Regions from separate parts of the Homo sapiens genome. Here region 2 is linked to region 1. Evidence: fine-mapped expression QTL. Tissue or cell type: whole blood. Region 1 holds a variant in brackets; the other region holds the start of a gene. All regions are shown on one strand. Distances are between the middles of the regions.

Region 1 (8,351 bases):
AAGAGAGAAGAATCAAATAGATGCAATAAAAAATGATAAAGGGGATATCACCACTGATCCCACAGAAATACAAACTACCATCAGAGAATACTATAAACACCTCTACGCAAATAAACTAGAAAATCTAGAAGAAATGGATAAATTCCTGGACACATACACCCTCCCAAGACTAAACCAGGAAGAAGTTGAATCCCTGAATACACCAATAACAGGTTCTGAAATTGAGGCAATAATAGCCTACCATCCAAAAAAAGTCCAGGACCAGATGGATTCACAGCCGAATTCTACCAGAGGTGCAAGGAGGAGCTGATACCATTCTTTCTGAAACTATTCCAATCAATAGAAAAAGTGGGAATCCTCCCTAACTCATTTTATGAGGCCAGCATCATCCTGATACCAAAGCCTGGCAGAGACACAACAAAGAAAGAGAATTTTAGACCAATATCCCTGGTGAACATCAATGCAAAAATCCTCAATAAAATACTGGCAAACCGAATCCAGCAGCACATCAAAAAGCTTATCCACCATGATCAAGTAGGCTTCATCCCTGGGATGCAAGCCTGGTTCAACATATGCAAATCAATAAATGTAATCCAGCATATAAACAGAACTAATGACAAAAACCACATGATTATCTCAATAGATACAGAAAAGGCCTTTGACAAAATTCAACAGCCCTTCATGCTAAAAACTCTCAATAAATTCGGTATTGATAGGACGTATCTCAAAATAATAAGAGCTATTTATGACAAACTCACAGCCAATATCACACTGAATGGGCAAAAACTGGAAGCATTCCCTTTGAAAACTGGCACAAGACAGGGATGCCCTCTCTCACCACTCCTATTCAACATAGTGTTGGAAGTTCTGGCCAGGGCAATCAGGCAGGAGAAAGAAATAAAGGGTATTCAATTAGGAAAAGAGGAAGTCAAATTGTCCCTGTTTGCAGATGACGTGATTGTATATTTAGAAAACCCCATCATCTCACCCCAAAATCTCCTTAAGCTGATAAGCAACTTCAGCAAAGTCTCAGGATACAAAATCAATGTGCAAAAATCACAAGCATTCTTATGCACCAATAGCAGACAAACAGAGAGCCAAATCATGAGTGAACTCCCATTCACAATTGCTTCAAAGAGAATAAAATACCTAGGAATCCAACTTACAAGGGATGTGAAGGACCTCTTCAAAGAGAACTATAAACCACTGCTCAACAAAATAAAAGAAGACACAAACAAATGGAAGAACATTCCACGCTCATGGATAGGAAGAATCAATATAGTGAAAATGGCCATACTGCCCAAGGTAATTTATAGATTCAATGCCATCCCCATCAAGCTACCAATGACTTTCTTCACAGAATTGGAAAAAACTACTTTGAAGTTCATATGGAACCAAAAAAGAGCCCACATTGCAAAGACAATCCTAAGCCAAAAGAACAAAGCTGGAGGCATCATGTTACCTGACTTCAAACTATACTACAAGGCTACAGTAACCAAAACAGCATGATACTGGTACCAAAACAGAGATATAGACCAATGGAACAGAACAGAGCCCTCAGAAACAATAATACACATCTACAACCATTTGATCTTTGACAAACCTGACAAAAACAAGAAATGGGGAAAGGATTCCCTATTTAATAAATGGTGCTGGGAAAACTGGCTAGCCACATGTAGAAAGCTGAAATTGGATCCCTTCCTTACACCTTATACAAAAATTAATTCAAGATGGATTGAAGACTTAAATGTAAGACCTAAAACCATAAAAAGCCTAGAAGAAAACCTAGGCAATACCATTCAGGACATAGGCATGGGCAAGGACTTCATGACTAAAACACCAAAAGCAATGGCAACAAAAGCCAAAATTGACAAATGGGATCTAATTAAACTAAAGAACTTCTGCACAGCAAAAGAAACTACCATCAGAGTGAACAGGCAACCTACGGAATGGGAGAAAATTTTTGCAATCTACTCATCTGACAAAGGGCTAATATCCAGAATCTACAAAGAACTCAAACAAATTTACATCATTTTATTTTTAATATCTTTGGGTCATTTTATTTTATATTGTCTCATAAACAGAATAGCATAATTTTGCATTTTAACCTAGTCCCAGAGGCTTTCCCCGCTCAGTTTTATCCATTTATATGTATTGACATAAGTATATTGTATTTGTTCTCATTTCTGGCTCTTTTGTTTTCATTTCCTTACTTTTCCTCCTCTTATATTAATACTATTGAGTTTTTCCTCAGCAAATGTCAAGACAGTGCTTGCAACCAATGTTTCAAATTTATACTTCATTTACTTTCTTTGGCTCTCTTATTCTTCCTGCTTTATGTAACAGGAAACAGATAAAGCCCACCACAAAAGCAATGTTAAGATAAAGTCAAACAAAAAAAGGGAAAACAGAAGCACTAGAAAGAGTTTCCTGCAGCCACAGACCAGTCACTGCACTTTATTGAAGTCCCCAGCTTTGGCAATATGGTTCAAGTGTAGGCTCCAAGACAGAGCTGGGGAGGGGCAGGCTCTTGCAGGACACTGGCTCCGAGGCATGCCTCCCCCACTGCCCTGTACCTGGACAAAAACGGGAAACATGGGAAACGACTCATTGTCTCTGAACCTCAAGCTGGAATTATGGTCTGTGTGTCCCAAGAAGATGGCTTTCTCAGCAGCATCTTTAAGCTCCTAGGGCCTTTGGCTCCTGTGTGTGAGGGAGGAAGGAGGCGATGGGCCCAGGGCCATAGGGTACCTCAGTCTTCAGTCCCCTTCTCTGCCATGGGGTCTGCAGTTTTGAACTACTGGAACGTGAATGCGTCTCTCGGTGGTGCTTCCCCACCTTGGAAACAGACCAGCCACGTACCAAGCTGGCGACGAGGGAGCACGGCACACACGTCTTCTCATTTTAGAAAGAAAAACAAAGTTAATTTATTTGAAAACTGTAGGTTTAGGAAAGAAAAATGCTAAGTGTTATGAGACCAGAAACCTGAAACACAGCCTTCAGAAGACCCTCCTGGGCCCAGCGGCCACCTTGACCTGCTGTTGGACCACCTCCCTATGGTTCGGCCAGCTGCCAGACCTTTGGGATCCGGGATCTTTGCTCTGGGATCTTCGCTGGCCTCGCATGGATGGGACACATCACTTTACCTTTATAGTCCCAGAAATTCATGACACTGGCAGAGAACCCCTTCCCTGCTCTCCAGAGCCCAGGCCCCTCTCCTCTGCCCCAAAGCTTCACCTGACGGAGGCTGTACTGCTAGTCTCCTGGATATCTCAATCTGGTTTAAATATTAACTCGCAAAATTTCTCAAACATTTTAAAGGAAGGATTTCAATTTTCCATCCTCCTTACCCCTTCAAGTCATTTATCCCTAACTCCAAAATGAGAAGATAATAATTTTGTACCTGTTTCTACTGAAGGATTTATATAAGATTATCCAACAAAACCCACTGGCCATCCTGGCACTTCCTGGAGCCCCCAGCTAACTGGAAGTATGCATTGCTCTAATTTAGTGCCCCAACCCCAATAACTCCTGCACATGAGAAAGAAGCAAAAATTAAACAAACACAAATGATCTCCAGGAGCAAAATTAGCTGTTTAAATAATCGGCTGACTCAGTGCAGGTTGACACAGGACACACAATGGATGTGAGTTGGCTTTGAGCTCCTTGGCCTCCAACCATCATCTCGGACAAAAGCTCAGCCTCGGGGAGCCCCATTCTCGCTTCTAAAGATGGGACAGGAACCACCTCCTGGACCTCACGTCAGGGTTAAGTGAATAACATTTGCAAAAATGACTGTGAAAGTGACTCACACTTGGCTGGGCATGGTGGCTCATGCCTGTAATCCCAGCACTTCGGGAGGCCGAGACAGGCGGATCACGATTTCAGGAGATCGAGACCATCCTGGCCAACATGGTGAAACCCCGTCTCTACTAAAAATACAAAAATTAGCTGAGTGTAGTGGCGTGCGCCTGTAGTCCCAGCTACTCAGGAGGCTGAGGCAGGAGGATCGCTTGAACCAGGGAGGCGGAGGTTGCAGTGAGCCGACATCGCGCCACTGCACTCCAGCTTAGGCGACAGAGCGAGACTAC[G/A]TCTCAAAAAAACAAAAAAACAAAAAAAGTGACTCACACTTACTTGGCAAAAGATAAATTTGAGTTTCTTTCCTTTTTCCTCCTGAAGGCCCTTTACCATCCAGCAACAAGCCAACATGGCTCAGTTTACTGATTCCGGGAAAAGTACTTTGCTGCATTTCAGAAAGATGTTTAACAACAAAACTGACAAAAGGTTATCTGATTATTTGAATAGAGATTTCTCCCAACAGGATATACAAATGGCCAATAAGTGCATGAGAAGATGTTCAATGTTATTAGTAAATGCAAATGAAGACCACAGTGAGATGTCACTTGCAGCCACTAACTTGTCTGCAATCAAAAGGTAGATTACAATAAGGATGTGGAGAAACTGGAACCCTCATAGGCTGCTGGTAGGGGTAAACAGTGGTATGTATACATATGTAACAAACCTGCACATTGTGCACATGTACCCTAGAACTTAAAGTGTAATAAAAAAAAAAGGAAATGAAATAAAAGGTACACAAACTTAAAATGAAAAGAAAAAAAAAGAGTGGTGCAGCCACTTTGGAAAACAGTTTGGTAGTTCATCAAAAAGTTAAACAGTTACCAAATCACCCAGCAACTCCACTCCTAGGTCTATATTCGAGAGACTTGAAAACATACATTCATGCAAAAACCCATACACTGATGTTCATAGCAGCACAGTTCACAATGACCAAGAGGTGTAAACAACCCAAATGTCTATCAACTGATGAACAGATAAAACGTGGTATAGCCATAGAATGGAATATTATTCTACCATAAAAAGGAATGATACTAGTTACAGAATGGATAAACCTTAAAGACATTATTATGTTCCGTGAAAAAGCTGGATACTAAATGCCGCATGTTGTCTGATCCCTTTTATATGAAATGTCCAGAATAGGCACATTCAAAGAGACAAAAAGTAATCAGTGGTTGTCGGGGCTGGGGGAAGGGAAATTGGGGAGTGATCCCAAAGGAGTTTGATTTTTGGAGGGGGAGGTGATGAAGATGTTCTGAAATTATATTGTGACAATAGTTGCACAACTCTGAATATACCAAAACACACTAAAATATACACTATAAAGGGGTATAGAATTGTATCTAAATAAAGCTGTTATTTTAAAAATTGTATGTTTAATTCTAAGTAAAGACTTGTCAATGAGTTGAAATATTCCATTTCCCAAGTAAGTTGATAGTTTCTTGTTCTTGCCTAAGAAAGCGTTAGTTTCAAATATGTATTTTAAATCCAGCAGGAAGTGAAACTGGATTAGCAAGCGCACAGCCAAGCCTGGACCCTAAAAGAGAAGTGAGGAAGGGTAAGGATTCAGAACACAAATCCAGAAAGAAGACAAGTGTGATGAGGGAGTCACAAGGAAGACCCACAAGGCCAGCCATGAGCTCCCCCAGGCTAACACAGCCAGCGGTCTCAGGGCAGTGTGGGGAATCAGCCTTGCCCAGGGCCGGGGCCAGGGCAGCCCCGCTGTCTTCCTCTCTTCACTGTTATCACAGCCGGAGCAGCTGTGAAGTGCCCAGGAGGCAGCTCCTCAAACGGTGTTTCAACAATGTGCCCGAGCAGATGACGCAGCAAAACTATTTTCTGTGCTTCTTGGACTCTGATAACTGGAAACAAACTATGCAGAGTCATGTTAGGAGGTGAGGGTTTGAATTAGATTGTTTTCTCTAGCTATGAAGACTTATTCTGTTACTGTATTTTGAGCTGTGGTGGATTTGTCTATAATTCCTAGGTGGATTTTTAACTTACCTTAAAAGCTCTGTGATTGTTCCTTTAACAAATATCTAAATAAATCAGATTAAAATTTTTGAACGTGATGAAACTACAGCTTGACTCCAGAATACATAACCTAAGATATAAAAAAGACCCAGAGGGCCAGGCACGATGGCTCACGCCTGTAATCCCAGCACTTTGAGGGGCCGAGGTGGGCGGATCACAAGGTGAGGAGTTCGAGACCAGCCTGACCAACATGGTGAAACCCCATCTCTACTAAAAATACAAAGAAGTTAGCCAGGCATGGTGGCGGGCACCTGTAATCCCAGCTACTCAGAAGGCTGAGGCAGGAGAATCGCTTGAACCTGGGAGATGGAGGTTGCAGTGAGCCGAGAACGCGCCACTGCACTCCAACCGGGGCGACAGAGCAAGACTCCATCTCAAAAAAAAAAAAAAAAAGAAAGAAAAAAGAAAAGAAAAGAAAAGAAAAAAGGACCCAGAGAGTCTCGGTTGGAGACATCAAGGGTATGTCTGAGAGCCCTTGGGATCTGCTTAGTTCTCTATCAGCCCCAGGTAAGATCCCGCCTAAGCTGTTCCACAACAATGAACATCAGCCCATGGGCAATGCCTTTTAAAAATGAGTTAAAAGACTCACACACACCTTCATTCATTCAACAGAACTCTGCATATGTAGTCTCAGCCTCATGGAGCTGATAGCTAGCCCCTCAGAAATGTCACGGTCCCTAACTACTCTTTGCTATTTATTTATTTATTATTTTTATTTTATTTATTTATTTTTTGAGATGGATGGGATTACAGGCACATGCACCACCACTCCCAGCTAATTTTTGTATTTTTAGTAGAGACGGGGTTTCACCATGTTGACCAGGCTGGTCTTGAATGCCTGACCTCAGGTGATCTGTCTGCCTTGGCCTCCCAAAGTACTCTTTGCTATTTTTAACCTATATTATAGATTTAAATTTTTGTTTTGTTTTGTTTGAATGAAAATAAGAAGATAATTTCAGGCTGGGCATGGTATCGCACACCTACATTCCCAGCAGTTTGGGAGGCCAAGGTGGGAGGGTCGCATGAGCCCAGGAATTCAAGACCAGCCTGGGCCACATGATGAGACCCCGTCTCTACCAAAAAAAAAAAAAAAAAAAAAAAGAAGCAGCAGCTAATTTCATTCCTTATTTCATTCCTTTATGCACAAGCCCCTTTAAAATACACTTGACATGAATAGCAGAGCTTGCCTCCGGCTCCTCCATGCAGAATTCGGCAATCCCAGGTTCCTCACCGCTCCTCAGGGTGGACCTTCCATTGACAGTGTTTAAAATCACAGACTGTGGGGTCAGACAGGCCTGGATGTGGATTCTGGGTCTCCTGCTGATCCCCCGAGTGGACCTCCCGAAGCCTCTCCTGTGCAGCAGGTGGTGCTGGAGCCTGAGATGCCGGCATCGGGCCGGGAGGAGCTGGGCCTCTGCCCACTGCAGCCATGACCTCTCCAGGCAGCCCCGCCCCCCTGTGTCGTGAAGCGCAACTGGGCACAGGACCTCCATTAACAGTCCACGTCTGTGCTAAACTTGATGGAAAAAATGGCCTCTCCATAGCGATTTGTGTCCTTGGTTTGCAAGCCTCGAATTTGCACCTCCTTTTCGAGGTGGCAGTTTAGGGTTGACTCTGGCAGCATTTTCCGAATGTGCCTGCCTGTGTGTCCCCACCTTGTTCCACCCCACAAGGGTTGTGCTGTAGGAGTCCTGGCCTCTGCCAGCCCTCCCTGATGGGCCCTAATGCAATGAACGTCAAAGGATCTATCACAAAACTAGAAAGGCTGCTGTCTGGTCCTGAGAACATTGTTCTCTTTTCAATCTCTCTTTCCAGAGAGCAAACAGTTTATAAAGACTGACAAATTGCTACACATAGTCAAGAAGTAGACAAAATCTTGCCATTACACAGAAGAGCCATAATGTCAGCTCTTTTCCCTTCTGGACTTTGCTCAGAGAGTCAGTGGACAAATGAGCATCCTGCCAGCAGCCTTAGTGTAAAAACCAGCCACCCACAAGCTCTGATGACCTGAAAAGTCAAGTACCAGGTGCATTTTCAGATCCAGAGATGTGTCTGTCCCATGTTACTCTGGGTATCAAATTAATTGAAACCTATAGAACTTTGAAATGCTTTAAAACCATCATAAATATAATGGATGGAGCAGTGAGGACAGAAGCCTGTCTATCCTGTGTGAGGTGGGCACACAGGAAATACGTGTTAAATATAGAAAGGAAGAAAATAAAGGAGGGAGAGAAGAAGGGAGAAGGGAAAAGAAGGTAGAAAAGTAGTCCTATAGTGGAAGAGGAGGGGAAGAGACAGAAGGAGGAGGAGGAGGACAGAGGAGGGAGGGGGAGGGGGAAGGGCTAGGGAGGGGAGGAGAAGTGAGGGGGGAAAGGGGAGGGGAGGAAGGGGAGGGGGGAGGGGGGAGGGGAAGGGGAGGGAGGGGGAGGGAAAGGGGGAGGGGAGGGAGGGGGAGGGAAAGG
Region 2 (8,000 bases), 59 kb after region 1:
CTAAATTTTCTGATAGATGGTATTGGGGAAATTGCTGCAGCCTGAGGGGGTCGAGACAAAGGCACGCATCGACGCTGGTCCCTCAGGGCACCATCATGTGACCAAAATGCACAGGGTCCTCGCTGAGGACAGGCTGCAGCAGGTAGGTTGGCTGTCCATCCACACCACCCTCTTAACCAAAAAGCTGCAGCCTCTGCATCATCAAGCCTTCCCCGGGTTGCAGTAAGCATCTGATGAGGTGACAGAGTTAGAAAACAGTTGATTCTGCTAATTTGTTGTCCAGCTTAATGGTGGTTTTGGTGGAAGAACCAATTAATCCCTGAAGCTTCCTGCCCTGCCGTTTTCTGTGACGTCACTGCTGTCTTAAAACTATAACTAAATATTAGTCATATTAAAAAAAAACTATAGGCTGGGCGCAGTGGCTCACGCCTGTAATCCTAGCACTATGGGAGGCTGAGGCGGGCGGATCACGAGGTCAGGAGATTGAGACCCTCCTGGCTAACACGGTGAAACCCCGTCTCTACTAAAAATACAAAAAATTAGCCGGGTGTAGTGGTGGGTGCCTGTAGTCCCAGCTACTCAGGAGGCTGAGACAGGAGAATGGTGTGAACCTGGGAGGCGGAGCCTGCAGTGAGCTGAGATTGCGCCACTGCACTCCAGCCTGGGTGACAGAGCGAGACTCCATCTCAAAAAAAAAAAAAAACAAAAAACACAACTATAGCTAAATAATAGTCATATAAAATAAATTGCAGTACTTATCAAATTTCAGTTTAACTTTTGAAAGTCATAGTATTTAAGGTAACAAACTCAGCTATTAACACATTTTATGATGCTTTAAAAAGCTCAAAGAATTGAACAGCTATTGGTGCTAAGTTATAATTGTGTTCTATAAAATAAATGTGATTCACTATTCTTTGTAATTGCTACCTCCTGGTATGTATAAGATAAAGAAATTGAATTTTACCTATTTTCTCACATACTAATTTGGTGACGTATCCTTTTAACTGTTGGCAAATGTTATAGGCTCTCTTGGCCTGTTTTTTATTCCATTATTTTAACATCTTTTGCAGTTTTCTCACATAAGATTGAAAACTGAATCTATGTGAAATAAGCAGGTGTCTATCAGTAATGATATTTAAAATATGTCACAGCTGGATTCCCTGTTTTGTAGGAGCATCTGAAATCAGCCATAGCGGAACAGATGGAAATGCCCCATTTGTTGGGGTCAAGAAGGAAAAGTTCTTACATAGTTTTACACATTTGGCTGGTGATTGATTTTGTGAAAAGATATGTTAAAATTTGTTTGTTTTTTGAGACGGAGGCTCACTGTGTTGCCCTGGCTGGAGTGCAGTGGCGTGATATCGGCTCACTGCAACCTCTGCCTCTCGGACTCAAGCAATCCTCCTGTCTCAGCCTACTGAGTAGCTGGGATTACAGGCTCCTGCCACCACACCCAGCTAATTTTTGTATTTTTAGTAGAGACGGGGTTTCACCATGTTGGCCAGGCTGATCTCAAACTCCTGACGTCAAATGATGCACCTGCTTCAGCTTCTGAAAGTGCTGGGATTACAGGCTTGAGCCACAGCGCCCGGTCTGAAAAGATACGTTTAAAAATTTTATTTTAAAAAGGTGCTACAAGACAATTCTACTAAATCTCTAATCTTTAAACTTTTTTTTAACCTCTTCACTGAGATTAGGAAAAGAATCTTGATATGACTCCTAGGTGATAACTGTATAAACAGACAACACCCCCACTCTTCATCATTCTAATAAAGAGAGAGGATTATATGCTTCATTTGTTTAAAGTCCTTTATTCAAACTCTCCTACTACTAACATCAGAGGACATGTTACTCTACTTTTTCATAAAAACAAACTTGTGTAGTTATTAGAAAGCATCTATTCACGGCATCATTAACAAATTAGGCATTATACAGAAGTGAATTTTCCAGGCAACTGAGGTGCTGCCTTAAACACAAAACTTTTTATCTTAACCTATCTGAAGTGTATTCCCTGTATTTCTACCTTCTGAAGCAGAACAATGATAGCATTCATTTCTTGAGGATCCCCAGGTGTTAACTCTAGTAAATCTTTTAAGGAGGGCTTTGTTCCCCTTCATACTGATGAGGGTCTAGCACTGTTGTATGGTGCATTGAAGACTAGCATTCAGACCCCATCCTGTCTCCATTCATCATGGTGAAAGTCAGGTATCGCGCTGGAAGTTAATGCAGTAATACATTTAGAGACCATGAGTTACCCCACGCTAAATTAGACTCAAACTAATGCGTTTTCATGTTTTCATTTTTAAATGGCTTTTCTGTCTCTCTGTCAGGCATCATGTATGCCTCCCCTGTCTTGAGTTGGGGCTAAAAAATCAAGTGACTGAACTTAAGGTAATTATTTTTAAAACAACTAAAATGAAAGTATTATATTAATAAAGTGCTGAGTTTTTTACATTTATTTTTCCTGCCAGAGCAAAAAAAAAAAAAAAACCATTTAGTTTTCTCATTGATCACTGTTAGAATTTTTCTGGTTTCTGTAAGTGAATGTCAAAAGGTTCAGACACTTGAGTAAGCTGTAATTCGGATCAGCAGCAGTGTTAACACCAGTGTTTAGGCCTCTGAGAGTAAAAACAATGTGTCGTACTGCCAAGTATTGTTCCTGTTACTACCCAATTCTTCAGTATCTCAGGACACAGTTTATCCTAAAAAGGTGTCCTGTTTGCTAACTACAGTGGCTGTGTTATCGTTAAAGGAAATACTGGGAAGTGTTACGGTCACCAGCTTCAAGTCACTGTCATCTACCAATGAGATAGGGGCTACCAAGTAAAATGTAGCCCAGGGCCACATTCACAGATGGAAGTGTTCAGTTAAGCAAAAGTAAAGTTACATACTAAAAGCCCACATGAAGAAGGATTTGGAGATATTTCTTCCTGCTTTGCTTTGGCTGTAAAGTTCTGTACATGTATCAAACAGAGCATTTCAACAGGCTGGCTAATGTGTAGGAAGCTAGCTTTTCTTTGTGATATAATTTGTCATGTAAAATCATAAGCTATTTTACAAGTGTATTTCATTCACTGTATCTTAAAATTCATATGGTTTTATTTAAAGATAATTTCATCAAACAGCTGAATTCTAAAATCCTACCTTTTTTTCAAAATCATTTTTCAGAACTTTGCAATAACAGGAAGTAAAGAATCAGAAGGGTGTTAAAAAATTGACTTGGGGGGAAAAACATTTGGACATTTTGCTGGCTAGGTTTACGAAATATACACATCCAGCAAACATGTGAGTCCCTTTAGGGTACAGTGCAGTGAAGGGAGAAGTGGAAATACTCAAGGTTCTGGGGAAGGTCAAATGAAGGGTCCCTCACATTGGCTGAGGCCAACCTGGCTTCAGAGGTGTGCAGAGGCACCAGGCCGAGAACAGGGCTTTGCAGTGGTGAGGGCAAAACATGAACACAAGAAATACCCTAAGTTACTGACCTGGTTGTGCCTGGTGACAGATGGGACCAGCTCTTTTCTCCATTTGGTAATTTTGGAAAATTTGGCAGAGTTAATAAAGAAATCCCCTTGGTGCAAGATTGCTACAATAAGAATCTATTATAGATGGCAGATGTGAAGTTCACAGTCCTTTTTATTATCCTAACCTAGTAACATGACTAGAGGTAAAATTAAATATTGAGTTAGATGATTGTTTAATATTTTAAAACCAGAGGGAAGACATACAAATAGATTGAGAGCAGTTTCTTTCTAAAGATAATCAGAATATATCTCCTATATTTTAAACACTGCAGGAACAGTCAAAATTTTAAAATAAATGGTTTCCACATTTTTTTATCCCCATCTCTCCCCCTGACTATATAGTAAAATATTTTATTTGGCAACCACGTTTTCCTACTTTTAATCACACATCATCAGAGCTTTTCATCAGCCTAACTAGTCTTCCTACTCACTGAGTTGTGACGAAAGCCTGGTCTAGGCACTTTTACCACGGCCATGTTTTTGTTAAGATCCCTGCAGACTGTGAACTATGAAAACCAGCCCCTGGCCCCGCTTGTGGGTGCTGCAGAGCCGCGTGTGAACTGCTCCTAGGAAACCGCGTCTCTGGGCAGGGTGGCTCTCGGGCCGTGGATCCGCCTAAAAGCTTTTCTGCCAGTGACGCCCTTGGTCTCTGGATGTGTTCACGCCTCAGTGATTTTACTCTCTGGTTTCTTGTGTGTGCTTGAGATTCTTGAGAGAAAGCGTGCTGCAGATGAAAAATGCAGCCTACATGAAAAAGAGAAGGGGAAAGCCATTTTAAAATAACTTCCATGTAAGTTACTGTAATCAAAGTGCTGCTGCCTGTGTGTTCATAAAAAAATATGTGCAAGGGCCCGGAGCGGTGGCTCATGCCTGTAATCCCAGCACTTTGGGAGGCCGAGGTGGGCGGATCACTTGAGGTCAGGAGTTACCGAGACCATCCTGGCCAACAAGGTGAAACCCCGTCTCTACTTTAAAAAAACAAAAAAATTAGCCAGGGGTGGTGGCGCGTGCCTGTAGGTCCCAGCCACTCAGGAGGCTGAGGCAGAGGCTGCAGTGAGCCGAGATCGCGCCACTGCACTCCGGTCTGGGCGACAGAGCGAGACTGTCTCCAAAAAAATTAAGAATTCAAATGTGAACCCGGCTTTCATGGCGCCCCGGCCACGGAGAGCCTGGGGGAGTGGGATAAAAACGGTGCTGGGATGGGAGGGCGGCTTGTCCGCGAACTCCTCCCACCACGCCCGGACCAAAGCCGCCGGCGCCCCGCTTCCGGGGCCGCCCTAAACCGCGGCCGCCGCTCCCTGAGGGGCCGCCTGACCCGGCGGAAAGCCAGGCTGTGTGGCCGGAGGTCACCACCCCGACCCCGACTAGTCCCGCAGCGCCTGACCCCTTCGTGGGCGGCCCCGACCGCCGCGGCTCGAGGAGGGGCGGGGCTGGGGCGGCCGAGCTCTCGCGAGGTTTCGTCGGGGGCTGGCGGCTGCGGCTCGGCGGAGAGTGCGGCATGCGCTCGGAAAAGGAGGGGGCCGGAGGCCTTCGGGCGGCCGTTGCCGCGCGGGGCCCGAGCGGGAGGGAGAAGCTGTCGGCCCTAGAAGTGCAGTTCCACCGCGACTCGCAGCAGCAGGAGGCTGAGACGCCGCCAACTTCGTCCTCCGGTTGCGGGGGCGGTGCGGGCAAACCTCGCGAGGAGAAGAGGACGGCCCTGAGCAAGGTGGGGACGGGGGCGGGGCGCGCAAACCTCGCGAGGAGAGGACGGCCCTGAGTGGAGGGAGGGGAGGGAGGGGAGGGAGGGGCGGGGGCCGGGCCTCCCAGCGCGGTACGCGGTGCCTTTTGAGCTCCTTGTCCACGCTCCGCCCCGGTGGGAACGGCCGCGCGCTCCCCGCAGGTGGTCATCCGCCGCCTGCCTCCGGGCCTCACCAAGGAGCAGCTGGAGGAGCAGCTGCGCCCGCTGCCAGCACACGACTACTTCGAGTTCTTCGCCGCCGACCTGAGGTGAGGCCCGCCCCGAGGGGAGGAAGAGAGGGCGGAACCCAGAGCTCGGCGGCGGTGGCCGTCTCGTTGCCTTACGTTCCTTACCCTGATTTCTCCTATATGGGAGTCGTGTGAGCTTTTTGAATAAATACATTTCAGTAAAACGTGTCCGTTCCGTCAAAGAAAAATACCACCAACAAAGAAACACAGATGTGGTTTACATGAAAAATGCGGATGATTTTCAGACGGCTAACGCTTAGGAAAGCGGGTGCCTTTGAAAGGACCAGCGTTGCCCGCCCGGCGCCTCCCGGGCTTCCCTGCTCGTCCGCGGACGGGGCGCTGCGGGGCCGGGGGGCGCCGGCTCTTCCTGTGGCCTCCACGCTGGTGCCGCAGCCAGTGCGGTTTTAAATACCGGAGAAGGTCCCCAAGTCAGGAGAGTCTCTCGGCGCCACGGGTTCCTCTGGGAGTGCGCCCTGGCCTTGCCTTAGGGTTTCAGCCTCGGAGGACCGGTTCTGGGCAGTGGAGAAGGGACCTGAGTTCTGCCTTGTAAAGTTAACGTTTTGCGTTTGTTTTTGCTAAAGAATATCCAAGTTGTTACAATTAACTGAGATGATTTGGCACAAAAGTTTTATCTAAAGTAGTTTGTTGTGCCCAGAAAAGGAAAAAGAGGCTAAATTAATGGACTATTGTATTTTTCACTGACCATTTTCACTGTTATCTCTTATTTCAGTCTTTATCCTCATCTCTACTCAAGAGCATACATTAATTTTAGGAATCCTGATGACATCCTTCTTTTTAGAGATCGTTTTGATGGATATATCTTCCTTGACAGCAAAGGTTGGATTATTGGTTTTTAAAAATCTATTATAATCTGTAGGTATACTAATGAAGTATTGCTAGAATATTCGTGCTTTTTAAATTATTATTATTTTTTGAGACAGGGTCTTGCTCTGTTGCCCAGGCTGGAGTGCAGCAGCCGCAATCACGGCTCACTGCAGCCTCACACTGCGGCTCAAGCAATCCTCCAGCCTCCTAGGTAGCAGGGACCACAGGCGTGTGCCACCATGATCGGCTGATTTAAAAAAAAAATTGTGTAGAGACGGGGGTCTCACTGTGTTGCCCAGGCTGGTCTTGAACTCCTGGCTTCAAGTGATCCTCCCACCTCAGCCTCCCAAAGTGCTGGGATTACAGGCGTGAGCCACAGCATCCGGTCTATTTGTGCATTTTAATTAAAAAGTTCTCAGACTAAAATAAGTTTATAAATTTTGATTATGTTACTGTAATTATGTGCAGATATTAAAAATTGAAATTATTTAATTTTATTATTTAATCCAAAAAAATTCCAGAAATTCTGTGTAATAGTGACAGCCTATTTATGTATTATCATCAGAGAATGAAGGTTTTCATGAGTGAGTTTGTTGCATGAGAGAACTTGATCTTTTTAGGTTCTAAAGCTAAACTATTTTACCTGATAGGAATTTTCCAAAATGTACACTGACTTCTATCTTCCTAAACAGCATCCTTCATGACTGTACCATTTATGATAATGTCACCAGGAAGTCACTGCTGTTAAACAGCTTTGCCTGCGGAGACAGCAGTCTTCAACTCTACTCTCAATAGTTCCCTTATCAGTACTTCTAGGGTTCTGCTTTCATCTTTTTCCTTCTCTTCTCCTGTCAGGCTGTCTGCTGTTGTGTTCCTGGCTGTCAAGTTTGTATACCTTTCACAGCAAGTTGTTTTCTGCCCTCCCCTCCCCAGCCACCCTCTTCCGACTCCACGTGTTTTGACACTGATGAGTGTTTTCTTTTTCTCCAATGAGGGGTAAGGACTAGAAAGATTGTTAAAAAAATAAGCATTAGCCAAGCTAGTTCCTGTGACTAGAAGCAAATGTGATGCTTGAACTGACCTTTGTGTTCATTGCTCATTTATTCAGTAACTTACTGAGTTTCCCTTTTTCACTTAAAAAATATTGGTGGGCCGGGCACAGTGGCTCACACCTGTAATCCCAGCACTTTAGGAGGCCAAGGCGGGTGGATCACGAGGTCAGGAGTTCGAGACCGGCCTGAGCAACAACGTGAAACCCTGTCTCTACTAAAAATACAAAAATTAGCCAGGCATGGTGGCAGGCGCCTGTAGTCCCAGCTACTCGGAAGACTGAGACAGGAGAATTGCTTGAACCTGGGAGGCGGAGGTTGCAGTGAGCCGAGATCATGCCACTGCATCCCAGCCGGGGCGACGGAGCAAAAAAATATGTATGTGTATGTACGTGTATGTATATGTGTGTGTGTGTGTAAAATATGTGTAACATGGCCAGGTGTGATGGCTCACTCCTGTAATCCCAGCACTTTGGGAGGCCGAGGAATGTAGATCAGTTGAGGTCAGGGGTTCGAGACCAGCCTGGCCAAGATGGTGAAACCCTGTCTCTACTAAAAAAAAAAAAAAATTAGCCAGGCATCATGAGGCATGCCTGTAATCTCAGATACTTGGGAGACTGAGGCATGAGACTCACTTGAA

The links. PIP is the estimated chance that this variant, and not a neighbour inherited with it, causes the effect.
Region 2: it holds the start of UPF3A, and the variant in region 1 is fine-mapped to the expression of UPF3A in whole blood (TOPMed, PIP above 0.99).

The regions. Positions count from the first base shown.
Region 1 is chr13:114,217,151-114,225,501 of GRCh38, forward strand. CFAP97D2 (CFAP97 domain containing 2) reads left to right here. Exons shown (of 4, transcript NM_001395229.1): 4 at 5,351-5,935. The coding sequence ends at 5,357. Among named protein-coding and RNA genes, the nearest start is that of CDC16, 14 kb to the right of the region's middle. The variant G/A (reference allele first, on the strand shown) is at 4,092.
Region 2 is chr13:114,276,621-114,284,620 of GRCh38, forward strand. It overlaps UPF3A (UPF3A regulator of nonsense mediated mRNA decay), which reads left to right and starts at 4,981. Exons shown (of 10, transcript NM_023011.4): 1 at 4,981-5,226; 2 at 5,401-5,507; 3 at 6,217-6,323. The coding sequence starts at 5,020. LOC105370384 (a long non-coding RNA gene) reads right to left here and starts at 4,449. Exons shown (of 4, transcript XR_007063887.1): 1 at 3,483-4,449. RefSeq lists enhancers at 4,209-4,508, 4,962-5,649 and silencers at 4,729-4,998, 5,229-5,408, 5,789-5,998, 7,616-7,812.